Linked DNA regions of Homo sapiens. The protein of the gene in region 1 purifies or fractionates together with the protein of each later gene. This does not show direct contact. Each region holds a gene or a part of one and is shown on either strand. Other genes may lie near its edges.

What was found. Proteins that work in one complex are often made in the same cells at the same time.
Region 2: the proteins of ZCCHC17 (region 1) and ZC3H14 purify together in Homo sapiens (affinity purification with mass spectrometry; 2 studies listed by BioGRID and IntAct, with this or other methods). This does not show direct contact.

What each region holds. Positions count from the first base shown.
Region 1 is NC_000001.11:31,342,017-31,349,043, forward strand, and holds part of ZCCHC17 (zinc finger CCHC domain-containing protein 17), read left to right. Parts: intron 1-4,623; coding exon 4,624-4,724; coding exon of another isoform or gene 4,725-4,802; intron 4,803-6,812; coding exon 6,813-6,958; intron 6,959-7,027.
Region 2 is NC_000014.9:88,566,037-88,573,063, forward strand, and holds part of ZC3H14 (zinc finger CCCH domain-containing protein 14), read left to right. Parts: intron 1-1,821; exon of another isoform or gene 1,822-2,002; coding exon 2,003-2,117; intron 2,118-5,047; coding exon 5,048-5,088; intron 5,089-5,993; coding exon 5,994-6,189; intron 6,190-6,541; coding exon 6,542-6,971; intron 6,972-7,027. UniProt on the Homo sapiens protein: RNA-binding protein involved in the biogenesis of circular RNAs (circRNAs), which are produced by back-splicing circularization of pre-mRNAs.

The sequences.
Region 1 (7,027 bases):
CCATTGTGCCTGATGTATAGCATCCATAGTATTCATTTAGTTTTTTTGAGATGGAGTCTCACTCTGTTACCCAGGCTGGAGTGTAGTGGTACAATCGTGGCTCACTGCAACTCTGCCTCCTGGGTTCAAGCAATTCTCATTCCTCAGCCTCCCGAGTAGCTGGGATTACAGGCATAGTCCACCATGCCTGGCTAATTTTTGTATTTTTAGTAGAGACGGGGTTTCACCATGTTGACCAGGCAGGTGTCAAACTCCTGACCTCAAGTGATCCCCCGCCTCAGCCTCCCAAAGTGCTGGGATTACAGGCATGAGCCACTACCGCTCAGCCCTAGTTAGTACTTTCATTTACTCATTTGTTCAACAAATATAAGGCAACTTGTAATAAATACTAAAAGAGTAGTTTAAAGCAGTTGTCCCCGACCTTTTTGTCACCAAGGACTACTTTTGTGGAAGACCAATTTTTCCATGGATAGGGGGCTGGAATGGTTTTGGGATGAAACCGTTCCACCTTAGATCATCAGGCATTAAATTCTCATAGGGGGTGCGCAACCTAGATCCCTCACATGTGCAGGTCACAATAGGGTTTGCACTCCTATGAGAATCTAATGCTGCTGCTGATCTGATAGGAGGCGGAGCTCAGGTGGTAATGCTCCTTCACCTGCTGCTCACCTCCTGCTATGCAGCTTGGTTCCTAACAGGCCATGGACCAGTAGCAGTCTGTGGCCTGGGGGTTAGGGACTCCCTGTTTAAAGAAAGGGTTCTAGGAATTCACTTGAGGAGGAATAGTTTACTTCAGGCCTTGATGGTCAGAGAATAGGTGGTATTTGAGTTAGGTTTTGAAGAACAGATAAGATCTTGTCAGACAGCAGGGGAAGGAATGGTATTTCAGGCAAAAGAAATGGTTTGAGGAAAGGAATGAGGCAGAAAAGCACATAGTACATTTGGGAACCTTGTTTAAGGAAAGAAGAGGATATGGTCAAGTACTAGAATGGAAGGCTTGAAAGATAATTTAGGGTCAGATTGTGGAGAGCCATGAATATCAGTTAAAGAATATGAATTTTTATTTATTTATTTTTTGAGATGGACTCTTGCTCTGTTACCCAGGCTGGAGTACAGTGGCATGATCTCTGCCTCCCAGGTTCAAGCAATTCTCCTGCCTCAGCCTCCTGAGTAGCTGGGATTACAGGTGCCCACCACTGCGCCCGGCTAATTTTTGTATTTTTAGTAGAGACGGGGTTTCACCATGTTGGCCAGGCTGGTCTTGAACTCCTGGCCTCAAGTAATCCGCCTGCCTTGGCCTCCCAAAGTGCTGGGATTACAGGCGTGAGCCATCACACCCAGCCCATGAATTTTTTTAAAAAAGCCTTTGGACAGAGAGGCTTCTCGTCAGATTAACCTCCCCAGGAATCCCATTGTCTGGCCTTGCCCTGTTATGCTCAGTATTCTCATCCTGTCTTCAGCCATCCATAGTTTGTTAGCCACCTTTCATTTTCCATAAAAATCTAACTCTTATATTCATCCCCTCAGGTCCCAAAGTGTTAATGAGATAATCTAATAAGTGACTCTGTAAATGGAAAGGGGCTAAAAGCAGTTTCCAATTAGGCATAGCCTGCAAAGTACAGTCTTTTTCTTTTTTATTATGATCAAGATCAGAATTGAGTGTAGTATATAATTTTTTTTTTTTTTTTTTGAGACAGGGTCTTTGTCTCCCAGGCTGGAGTGTAGTGATCATAGCTCACTACAACCTCAAATTCCTAGGCTCAAGTGATCCTCCTCCTTCAGCCTCCCAAGTAGCCAAGACTATAGGTCCATGCCAGCATGCCCCACTAATTTTTTTTTTTTTTTTTTTTTTTTTGAGACAAGAGTTTCACTCTTGTTGCCCAGGCTGGAGGCAGTGGCACGATCTCGGCTCACTGCAACCTCCACCTCCTGGGTTCAAGCAATTCTCCTGCCTCAGCCTCCCGAGTAGCTGGGATTACAGGCATGTACCACTATGCTCGGCTAATTTTTGTTTTTTTAGTAGAGACGGGGTTTCTCCATGTTGGTCAGGTTGGTCTTGAACTCCTAACTTCGGGTGATCTTCCTGTCTCGGCCTCCCAAAGTGCTAGGATTACAGATGTGAGCCACCATGCCTGGCCTAATTTTTAAATTTTTTGTAGAGATGACGTCTTGCTGTGTTGCCCAGGCTGATCTTGAACTCCTGGTCTCAAGTGATACTCCCACCTTGGCCTTCCAAAGTGCTGAGAGATTATAGGTGTGAGCCACAACTGCTGGTCCATAGGGTAGTCTTTAGAAAAAGCACATATGACTTAACTCTGTTAAAATTTTTCATTTGTATGTCTCCCTCCATTGCCAGACTATTAGTTCTTTCCAGAAAAGAATCATGTTTTGTTCGTTTTGGTATACATAATTATTACTATCACTAGTATTAGCACTGGCGTTATCCACTTACTAGCTGTACTGAAAAAATGAGATTAATCTCAGAATCTGTGCTGGGATGGATTGGAGGAAGAAAACTGGAGGCAGGGAGACCAGTGAGGGAGTTATTACTCTAGATGAAACATGATGGGAGCCTAAACTAGAATGATGGCAATGAGGACAAAAAGAGAGACGTGGGTGACTGACACATTTGTTGAATTGAGTGTTAAGTGGGAAGTATGATTTGGTTTGTAGTCTGGTAGAAGCCACAGAGTATTGGAATTGATTGTCATGGGGGTTGCTTAAGCTGCAACTCACAGCCACTTGAAACTCATCTCTACAAATAGATAGGTGAAAGCAAAAACCATGTTTGTGAGTTCCTTGAGTTATGTCCTCAAGTTTCTGCCTTTGTTATGGGTTTTTTTTTGTTGTTTGTTTGTTTTGGAGACAGGGTCTTGCTCTGTCACCCAGGCTGGAGTACAGTGGTGCAGTCCGCTCACTGCAACCTCAATCTTGCAGGCTTAAGTGATCCTCCTGCCTCAGCCTCTCGAGTTGCTGGGACTACAAACACAAGCCACCATGCCTGGCTATTTTTTTTTTTTTTTTAAGTAAAAGGAATCTGTACTGTTAGAAATTAGAATTGTGATTACCCTTGGGGGAGGCAGGTAACTAGAAGGGAGCATGAGATGGGCTTCTGAGATGCTGGCAATGTTCTGTTTGTTTGTTTGTTTGTTTGTTTTGAGACAGAGTCTCGCTCTGTCGCCCAGGCTGGAGTGCAGTGGCGCAATCTCGGCTCACTGCAAGCTCTGCTTCCCAGGTTCATGCCATTCTCCTGCCTCAGCCTCCCAAGTTGCTGGGACTACAGGCGCCCGCCACCTCGCCCGGCTAATTTTTTGTATTTTTAGTAGAGACAGGGTTTCACCTTGTTAGCCAGGATGGTCTCGATCTCCTGACCTTATGATCCACCCGCCTTGGCCTCCCAAAGTGCTGGGATTACAGGCATAAGCCACCACACCCAGCCTTAATGTTCTGTTTTTTGATCTGAGTACTGGTTACTTTGGTATGTTCAAATTATGAAAAATCAAGTGAGCTGTATACTTATGACAGACATTTATATATATATATATAATATAATATATATATATATATTAGTTCTCACACTGCTATAAGAACTACCTGAGACTGGGTAATTTATAAAGAAAAGAGGTTTAATTGACTTATAGTTCCACTGCCTGTATAGGAGGCATGGCTGGGGAGGCCTCAGGAAACTTACAGTCATGGCTGAAGGGTGAAGGGGAAGCAAGCATATCTTCATATGGCGGCAGGAGAGAAAGAGAGAGAGAGCAAAGGGGAAAGTGCCACACACTTTTAAACCATCAGATCTCATGAGAACTCCCTCACTATCACATGGGGGAAATCCGACCCCATTATCCAATCACCTCCCACAAGGTCCCTCCCCCAACACTGGGAATTACAATGTAACATGAGATTTTTGTGTGTGGGGGAACACAGAGCCAAATCACATCAACATATATATTATATTTTGGTAAGAAGTCTAAAAATGTTTTAAAAGGCTATGAGAAATGCAACAAAGAGATTAATTCTGTCTGAGGGGCTCAGAGGAAAAGACTTGATAGAAGGAGAGCTAGTAACTGAACTGAGCCATGAAATGTCTAGGTATAGTGAAGTGGTGAGGTGAGAGTCAAGTGGGGAAACAGAGCATTTCAGAGAGGGGGAGAACTGCCTGAGCAAAAGCACTGAGCCACATGGATAAGAGAAAATAGACTTCTTTGGCCAGAGCATATTGTGTGAGTAAAGATGAGGCTGGAAAAGTAGTTTAGAGACAAACTGTGAAAGACCTTGAATGCCAAGGTAAAGAATTTGGAGCTGATTTTCTAGAAAGCCTTTGAAGGTCTTTTAAACCTATGAGTGACCTGGTAAGGGTTGTAGGGTGTTTAGCATGTTGAGTAATTATATATTTTCATCCTCTGTGCATTAGTGAGATGAAGGTTAGTCTCATTCGTAATTGTTAATTTAGGGCTATTTCACATCATTGCATTTACTGCCTGTCTCGTTCTGTCAAAAACTTTCTTTCTTTCTCCCCTTTCCCTGCCAAAAACAAAAAACCAACATACAACCTTACCTTGTAGTATCTCTGGCCATATCTCTTAAGGGGGCCGGCAGTCGGTATCTTTTTCATTATAGGCAAGAAGAGAGGCGGAGGCGATCCTTCCAGGATTACACTGGGCAGAAGATCACCCTTGAGGCTGTCTTGAACACTACCTGCAAGAAGTGTGGCTGTAAAGGTAGGGTGAAGCCTCTGCCCTTTCCACGTTTCTCTCCTTGTGGATGGACCCTTTTCTGGAAGAAGGAGGCAGCCCAGTGTGAGTTTAGTTTACCCTGTTTTTTAGCCAAGTGATGGCCTTTGCTGTTTTTTCCACCAGACTCACATCAGAGTTCATGGGGTGATACATTTTCTGTTTTCTTTTCTGAGTGCTGGCCCTACCAGATACTATACCACTACCACCACTCCTCCCACCCCACCCACAGCATATGCCTTGTCTGGGCAAGACCCCCATGAACTATGCCAGGAGGAGTAAGAGTGTTGGATTATGATTAACACTCTAATTTTATCTCCAAGGATGATGATTCTGCAAAAATTAAGCAACTTAGACATATATAACTTAAAGATCCAAGTCAGACTCTCATCTTTATCTCTTTAATGTCAGAGTTCTGAATACAATATCTTTTTACAGGATATTGAATAAAGAATACAGGATAGTCACTTCTTTTTAGCTCTATTTCCTCAGGTTTCCTCTACTCTTACTCAAATTTTAAAAGGTCTTTCAGCCTGATCCCTAGTTGGAGCTATAATGAGAGAGATTGCCAGCTTCTCATTTTCAGGTTGACCTCAATTGTCACCCCTTCTCCCTAGTCTTCCGTCTACCCTACTGTGTGATTTTTCTACAATAACTGGTAGCAGATTTGTGCCCTGGTTGAAGTTGTGGGGTTTTAAGCCCCTATTTATCATTAGCATAGAGGGGAGAAGGAAAAAATAAAATTGAGAGAAAGAATACCTCCTCAGGAAAACTGTGGGAACATTCCAGGTATTTGGAAAACTCTGCTATATTTCCCTGCCAGGTGCCACCCAGCTGTTGGACCCAGAGGTACAGAGTACTTTACAGATAGCTTTTTTTGTTGTTTTTAAGGTAGGGTCACCCAGGCTGGAGTGTAGTGTTATGATCATGGCTCACTGCATCTTTGACCTCCTGGGCTCAAGCAATCCTACCTCAGCCTCCTGAGTAGCTGGGACCACAGGTGTGTACCACCATGTCCAGCTAATTTTTAAAAATTTTTTGTAGAGACGGGGTTTCCCTGTGTTGCCCAGGCTGGTCTCCCTGGGCTCCAGTGATCCTCCTGCCTCAGCCTCCCAAAGTACTGAGATTATAGGCATAAGCCACTGTGCCCAGCCCACACATAGCTTTTTGATTATCTCATACAATTCCTCTGTGCCCCTAAGACAGGATCTACCACAAACTCAGACACAACTAGCAGTGTAGAGCATAGCATCTGTTAAAGGGCCCCTCAGTACCACTATAGGCTCAGTGAAGGTGGGGGTCTTTTAACCTTAACCGTGTCCAACAGGCATTACATAAAGAAGAGAAGAATAATGAGAGGTGGAATTTGTCCCAGTTAGTAAAGGTCAGGTCAAAGGTAGTTGGTTTTGGTGCAGCAGAAAGCACAGGGCAGGGAGGCATGAGACCCAGGATAAGTTTGAACTCTGCTTCTGTCTATATGACCTTGAGCTACTTCTCAAATCTGGGCTTTCATCTTCTACAAATGTAGGATGGATTTAATGATTTCCAAGGTGCTTGCCAGACCTGACAGTCTGTAAATGTTCAGTGCCCCTAGGTGACTGTGCCTATTTCTCTGTGTGTTAGCTTAGATGTGAGTGCCCACTTGCTACCAGCTACCTACAAGCTATATTCCTTTAGGGCTTGGCCTGCCACTCAGCTCCTTCTGCTAAACATCCTGCTCTCTGGAGCAGTCTTTGATTGTCAGGAATATGTTCCAAAATAGATCTTAAAAAATTAATAAGCCCCATTGTTAATGGAGGGCAGTAAAAACCTGCATCCTCATATCCTTTGCCATTTCGAGAACAGTACCAGTGTTCCCCACAGCCCTGAGACCAGCTGCTAGTCTGGCTGTGGTTGAGTGAGCAGTGTCATGTTGAGGTGGTAGAAAATCTACCCTGAATCAAACAGCTGCTTTGAATGAACTCAACAATATTTCCTGAGCCAGCTAGCCCATTTCAGGAGACTTGGGGAAAGATTCACTTGCTGAGAAGAGAGACTACTTCCTTTTTCTATACCTTTTCTACTTTTCTTCTGCAGGCCACTTTGCAAAAGATTGTTTCATGCAACCAGGTGGGACTAAATACTCTCTGATACCTGATGAGGAAGAGGAAAAGGAAGAGGCAAAGTCAGCAGAGTTTGAGAAGCCTGACCCTACAAGGAATCCTTCTAGAAAAAGAAAGAAGGTGAATGCTACTTTGCTTTTATTTTATCATGTCTTTTTCAAGTTTTAAGATGAAAATCTGAAAAGCCTC
Region 2 (7,027 bases), on another chromosome or scaffold:
CCCCGGCTAATTTTTGTGTTTTTAGTGGAGACGGTGTTTCACCATGTTGGCCAGGCTGATCTCGAACTCCTGACCTTAGGTGATCCACTTGTCTCAGCCTCCCAGAGTGCTGGGATTACAGGTGTGAGCCACTGTGCCTTGCCTAAATTTTTTTTTGGAAAATTTAATAATGTTACTTGTGTTAATATAATTGGATTTGTGATTAACATGTGATGGATTTATTTTTTAATGAATTAATAAATACTTTTTAATTAAAAATGATCAGTTCTAATTTTGAACACCATAAATAATAGAACCTGCATAAACCAAAGAAGGGGCCCAAGACCAAACAGTTTGAGAATTGGTAATTTATGGAGTACTTACCACCATTTGCTGGGCACTTTCATAAACGATTTGTTGTCAGGATTGTTGGAAGACTAACAGATGAGAGAATTGAGGCTCAGAGAAAATAAAGCTGAACCAAGATTTATTTATTCTTTTATTCTTTCAACACTTGAACTGCATTTTTTATAGTTTTCTTTGAAACAAAAAAAGTACTTCTGAAATGAACCTTTCTGCCTGCATAGAAATATTACAAGTATTTAAGGTATTAAAGAAATTTGTCACAGCATGGTGGTTCACGCCTGTAATCACAGCACTTTGGGAGGCCGAGGTGGGTGGATCACTTGAGGTCAGGAGTTCGAGACCAGCCTAGTCAACATGCTGAAACCTGGTGTCTACTAAAAATACAAACATTAGCTGGGTGTGGTGGCAGGTGCCTGTAATCCCAGCTACTCGGGAGGCTGAGGCAGGAGAATCGCTTGAACCCAGGAAGCAGAGCTTGCAGTGAGCCGAGATTGTGCCACTACACTCCAACCTGGGAGACAGAGCAAGACTCTGTCGTAAAAGAAAAAAAAAAAAAAGAGAACTGGAATGGAGTTTTGAGGGTCAGAGATTAGAGTTCCTGATAACAGCTTTTGCTTCCTTATCTTCTTAGTGAGGTTTTTGTTTTTTTGTTCTTTTAAATCCTAGACCTCACTCTCATAATCACTGTAGGATTACCACTAGGAGGGTGTTTTTTGGCTTCTTTTATTTATTTTATTTATTTATTTTTTTTTGAGACAGAGTCTTGCTCTGTTGCCCAGGCTGGAGTGCAGTGGCAGGATCTGAGCGCACTGCAAGCTCCGCCTCCTGGGTTCACACCATTCTCCTGCCTCGGCCTCCCGAGTAGCTGAGACTATAGGCGCTCACCACCACACCCGGCTAATTTTTTGTATTTTTAGTAGAGACAGGGTTTCACTGTGTTAGCCAGGATGGTCTCAATCTCCTAACCTTGTGATCTGCCCACCTTGGCCTCCCAAAGTGCTGGGATTACAGGCATGAGCCACCGCGCCTGGCCTTTTTTCTTTTTTTTTTTTTTTTATCCTAGACCTCACCCTTATAATCATTGTAGGATTACCACTGTGAGGGTAAAACCGTGCATTGAGTTGACATTATTTAATGTTAAAATTGATTTTTTTAAATGATGTGGAGCTTTTGGGTCTATTTGTTTATTCGATGTTGCTACAAGTTTGTTACTGTGAGTAATTGAAACCTGCCTTTAGCAAGGGTAAAGATGTTCACTTGAGAAATGAGTGTTATTTTGAAACTTTGCAAATTAAAACTAAACAAAACTCAATTCTTTTTCTTGGGGAATGTTCAAATATTTCCCATAAGCTTCTTTGAAATTAATAAGCATTATTAAAAAGATTCAAGGAAGTGAATGCATGCTCAAGTTTGACCCTATAATTCAGAATGTTTAGTTTTGTAAGTATCAATTATTCTTAATTTCCATTCTTCTAGTATTTGAAATACCTGTGGAATGAAGAGAAAAAAATTAAAGCTAAGCCATCTTGTCCAATGTAATTCCAGTAGAGCTCTGCGACTCTAAAGCTTAGAGCTACATCTATATTTTCAAGCACATCAACTTTAAGAAGAAAGTTTTGAGGAAACAAAGTTTTGATCTACCTTTCCTTTTAAATAGATGAAGAACTTCCTGATTACATTATGGTGATGGTGGCCAACAAGAAAAGTCAGGACCAAATGACAGAGGATCTGTCCCTGTTTCTAGGGAACAACACAATTCGATTCACCGTATGGTATGTTTCTGAATTTTTGTGCCTCAGACCAAAGTTTGGCACAAGCCTGAGTTGATATTCTGTCCAAAGAGAGGTTCTTGACACTTGAGTTAGGTTTACTTTGGAGAGGCAGTTTGTGAGTGATGAGAGCACAGCCTCTGTATTAGTCCATTTTCACAGTGCTATGAAGAAATACCCGAGACTGGGTAATTTCTAAAAGAAAGAGGTTTAATTGACTCAGAGTTCCACATGGCTGGGGAGGCCCCAGGAAGGGGAAGCAAGCACCTTCTTCACAAGTCGACAGGAAAGAGAAGAGTGAAGGAGGAACTTCCAGAGACTTATATAAAATCATCAGATCTTGTGAGAACTCACTGTCTCTTGAGAACTCGGGAACTCACTGTCTCTTGAGAACTCACTATCATGAGAACATCATGGGGGAAACCACCCCCATGACCCAGTCACCTCCCTCCCTTGACAGGTGGGGATTACAATTCAATATAAGATTTGGGTGGGGACACAGAGCCAAACCTTATCAGCCTCTGAAGCCAGACAGCCAAAGTTGAATCCTGGCTGTGTCTTGCCTTGGTTTCTCTAGCTATAAAATGGAAATAGTACAGCCACTTGCTTTATAAAATTATTATTGAGGATCAAATGGGCTAATATGTGTAAAGTACTTATAGGTGTCCCTAGCATTTTCCTAAGGAATTCTTAGTATATGTCGGCTATACTTAATATGTTTCTTTTGTAAACTTCTATATCTTTTTTTTTGAGACAGGGTCTTGCTCTGTCACCAGGCTGGAGCACAGTGGTACAATCATGGCTCGCTGCAGCCTCGATCTCCTGGTTTCAAGTGATCATCCCATTGCAGTCCCCTCCTTCCTGAACTCCCATGCCTGACTAATTTTTAAATTTTTTGTTCAGACAGGGTCTTAGTATGTTGCCCTGGATGCTCTTGAACTCCTGGGCTCAAGCAGTCCTCCTGCCTTGGCCTTCAGAAGTCTTGGGGTTATAGGTATGAGCCACTGCACCTGGCCAGCTTCTGTATCTTATAGTTCCTTTTCCCCCACCAAAACCAGTTACAGATGTTTTTTTGAACTGGGTTGGCTTCTTACATTGCCTTTTACAATGAGTTACCTTTAGAGGGCAAGGTTTTCTGTTTCTCACTTTTCTGTTTCTTACTTTTTAAGCTTTTTGTTAAACTCACACCTTCATTTTGAGTAATAATTGTAGTGTAATGTTACAGCATATTTTGAGATTATAAGTTTTTTTAAGTTTGGAATTTTAAAATAGGCAACTTTGCTTTTATACATAAATTACTGTTATATGCCTTTAGTTGAGAATACTGACTAGAAGAGTAAGATTCAACTTAAGATGCTAGGTCCTGGTACCAGGTTTGAGGTAAAGTGAGGATGAGGGCTGGAGGATAATGATGTAGCTGAGAATAGACAGACGAAATACTTTATTAGGCTTCTCAGGCTAGGAACTACCAGTTACCGTGAAAGGTGATGATGTAGCAGAAGTGAGCAAGTGGCCTGCCGAATTTGAGTGCAAGAGGAGGCACTGAGTGGGGAGATGAGCCTGGTTAAGTTCTTGCCTTTATACCAAAGGTCGTCTTCAAGGTGTTTTTGCCCAAGTAGGCAACTGTATGCTTATCAACCGTCTTGAAATTCTGCACAGAATTCTCTGGGTTTATACATTGCACAAATTTGAAGAACATTGTATAGTGGTCATCAGTTGTTATGATACACTGCTGCCTCACTGTGGGTGACCCAACCCATTTGTTACAATTTGTCCCCAGAGGTTATTCCCTCCCAGCCCCCCACAAAAAAAGACTGTGGGTCTTTTGACTGGGAAAATTACCATTATTGTGAGTACTATTTTTTTTTCTAAAGCGACCGAGTAGATCCTTTTCTCCGATAACTTGATAGAATACTTAGATTTTTAAAACAGACTACCAAATGAATTTAAAACCAAATTAATTCAACATTCTCATCTGGCCATAAATTGAGTTCTTTAACATGTAGTGAAGCAAAGGGTGATGTCCCCATTTTGGCACTTTGCTTTCTTAAGTTAGTGTTCATTAACACCAGCCCCAAACAGACTATTGTGATTATTTGGAGCCTTGAAGTAATTGTGTCCGTGGGGACAGTAGCATGTGACTAGGGTTCTCATTGAAACATGAGGTTTCTGGCATATTTTGAGAGGTACTGGGAAGGGATGTAAGGCAAAGTACCTCATTTATAACTACCAAAACAGGTTATGTTACAAGCAAGATTACAGCCTTACAGCATCAGTTTTGAAAGTAATAGAGTGAAATGATATAGCATAGTTTGAGATTATAACTTGTTTTAACCTCTCAGAATTAAGTTGTCCAAGACACCATCTAGTTTAAGCAGTTAATATAAGCTGCTTAAATGGTGGTAATAATAAGCAATATTACATGTTTATGATACTTGTTTTACTGTAAGCTACAGTAAATCTTTAGTACTTACAAACAGGGTGACATATTTTGTAGACTAAGACTGGTCAGATGATATTCTTTCCCATATTTTTGCAGAGGCTAGATGTTGAAAACAGTGAAGAAAAAAATACAATTTTTTATTGACTTCTGTAGGATTTATACAAAGCCCTTTTTTAAAAATGTGAAGTTTGAAAGTTCATACCATTTATTCACTAAATACAGTTTATCAGTATTTATCTCAGCTAGGTGCGGTGGCTCACGCCCGTAATCTCAACACTTTGGGAGGCTGAGGCAGGTGGTTCTCTCAAGTCCAGGACTTCAAGACCAGCCTGGACAACACAGTGAAACCCCATCTCTATTTAAAAATAATAAAAATATAAAAAAATTTAAAAAATTATCTCTGAATATAATGTCATAAATTTAGAGTGACAGTTGAAATGAAATCTTTCTTAACAGAAGGTTTATTTTTGTTTTTTGTTTTTTTCCTCAGGCTTCATGGTGTATTAGATAAACTTCGCTCTGTTACAACTGGTAAGATTCATAACTTTTTTTTTTAATTTCTGCTTGCTATGGCATATGATTTGTTTCTTTCTAAAGTCATAGTGCTTTGGGAAAAACCCATCAATTTCAAAACGGTTCATTTGAACTTTTTTAGAAAGCACATACTTTTATGAACTTAAGAGCAGTAAATTTAACATAATTCAAAGATAATTTAAGTGTGGGAGAGGGAGCAGTGCACTTTATCCGAAGGAAATAATTACATATATGTGCAAAGATTTAGCCTCAAGGATATTTCAGTATTTTATAATTGAAAACAATTTAAAAGTTCAGTCATAATAAACGAAATTGTTGTATTACCATGTGTGGAATAATATTTAACTATTAAAAATAATGTTGTGGAAGAATAACAGAATATACACGCATAAGATACATGTTTTAAAAAATGTGTATATATGCTCTTCCCCCGAAAAATCACCTTTGAGATAATTGGTGATTTTTATTATATTTTTAAAATTTTCTACAATAAACATACTGCTTTTGAATTGGTGATGAGGAAGGAAACGACTTAAAGTAATAAAAATAGATGGCCGGGCACGGTGGCTCACGCCTGTAATCCCAGCATTTTGGGAGGCCAAGGTGGGCGGATCATGGGCTCAGGAGATGGAGACCATCTTGGCCAACCAACATGGTGAATCTCCGTCTCTACTAAAAATACAAAAATTAGCCAGGCATCGTGGCACATGCCTGTAATCCCAGCTACTTGGGAGGCCGGGGCAGGAGAATCGCTTGAACCAGGGATTTGGAGGTTGCAGGGAGCCGAGAACGCGCCACTGCCCTCCAGCCTGGCGACAGAGCGAGACTCCATCTCAAAAATAAATAAATAAATAAAAATAAGAAATAAAAATAGATTAAAAGGACTGTATTTTTCTTTTCAGAACCCTCTAGTCTGAAGTCTTCTGATACCAACATCTTTGATAGTAACGTGCCTTCAAACAAGAGCAATTTCAGTCGGGGAGATGAGAGGAGGCATGAAGCTGCAGTGCCACCACTTGCCATTCCTAGCGCGAGACCTGAAAAAAGAGATTCCAGAGTTTCTACAAGTTCGCAGGAGTCAAAAACCACAAATGTCAGGTAAGAGTCTGGTGTAGACCTGCTGGGGGCAGATGGCTCTGTGTATGTGACATTTATATTAGTTTTTATATCTTTCAGTTTGCTGTTCTCAGCAATTTTTAGAAACAATGAAGTGATCGTGAGTAGTTTTTTGAATAAAATAATGGATAAGATCTAAGTATGATTATCTTTTATCACAAATTTAGTAAATCAAAGTTGAAAGAAAGTGCAATTTCAAAGCAGTTTTGAATGGAATATGTAAAGGGAGTATCCTCAGTTTTTTCATTGAAATTTTTCAAGTAAACATTCTTTAAAGATTTGGTGATAATTGCCCTAATTTGGCTGTAATACATTTTGTTGTTCTTTTAAATAGACAGACTTACGATGATGGAGCTGCAACCCGACTAATGTCAACAGTGAAACCTTTGAGGGAGCCAGCACCCTCTGAAGATGTGATTGATATTAAGCCAGAACCAGATGATCTCATTGACGAAGACCTCAACTTTGTGCAGGAGAATCCCTTATCTCAGAAAAAACCTACAGTGACACTTACATATGGTTCTTCTCGCCCTTCTATTGAAATTTATCGACCACCTGCAAGTAGAAATGCAGATAGTGGTGTTCATTTAAACAGGTTGCAATTTCAACAGCAGCAGAATAGTATTCATGCTGCCAAGCAGCTTGATATGCAGAGTAGTTGGGTATATGAAACAGGACGTTTGTGTGAACCAGAGGTGCTTAACAGCTTAGAAGAAACGTATAGTCCGTTCTTTAGAAACAACTCGGAGAAAATGAGTATGGAGGTTTGTATGTACTTTTAAATTCTGGCTTAGGCTAAAAATCGGCAGTTCTTGATACC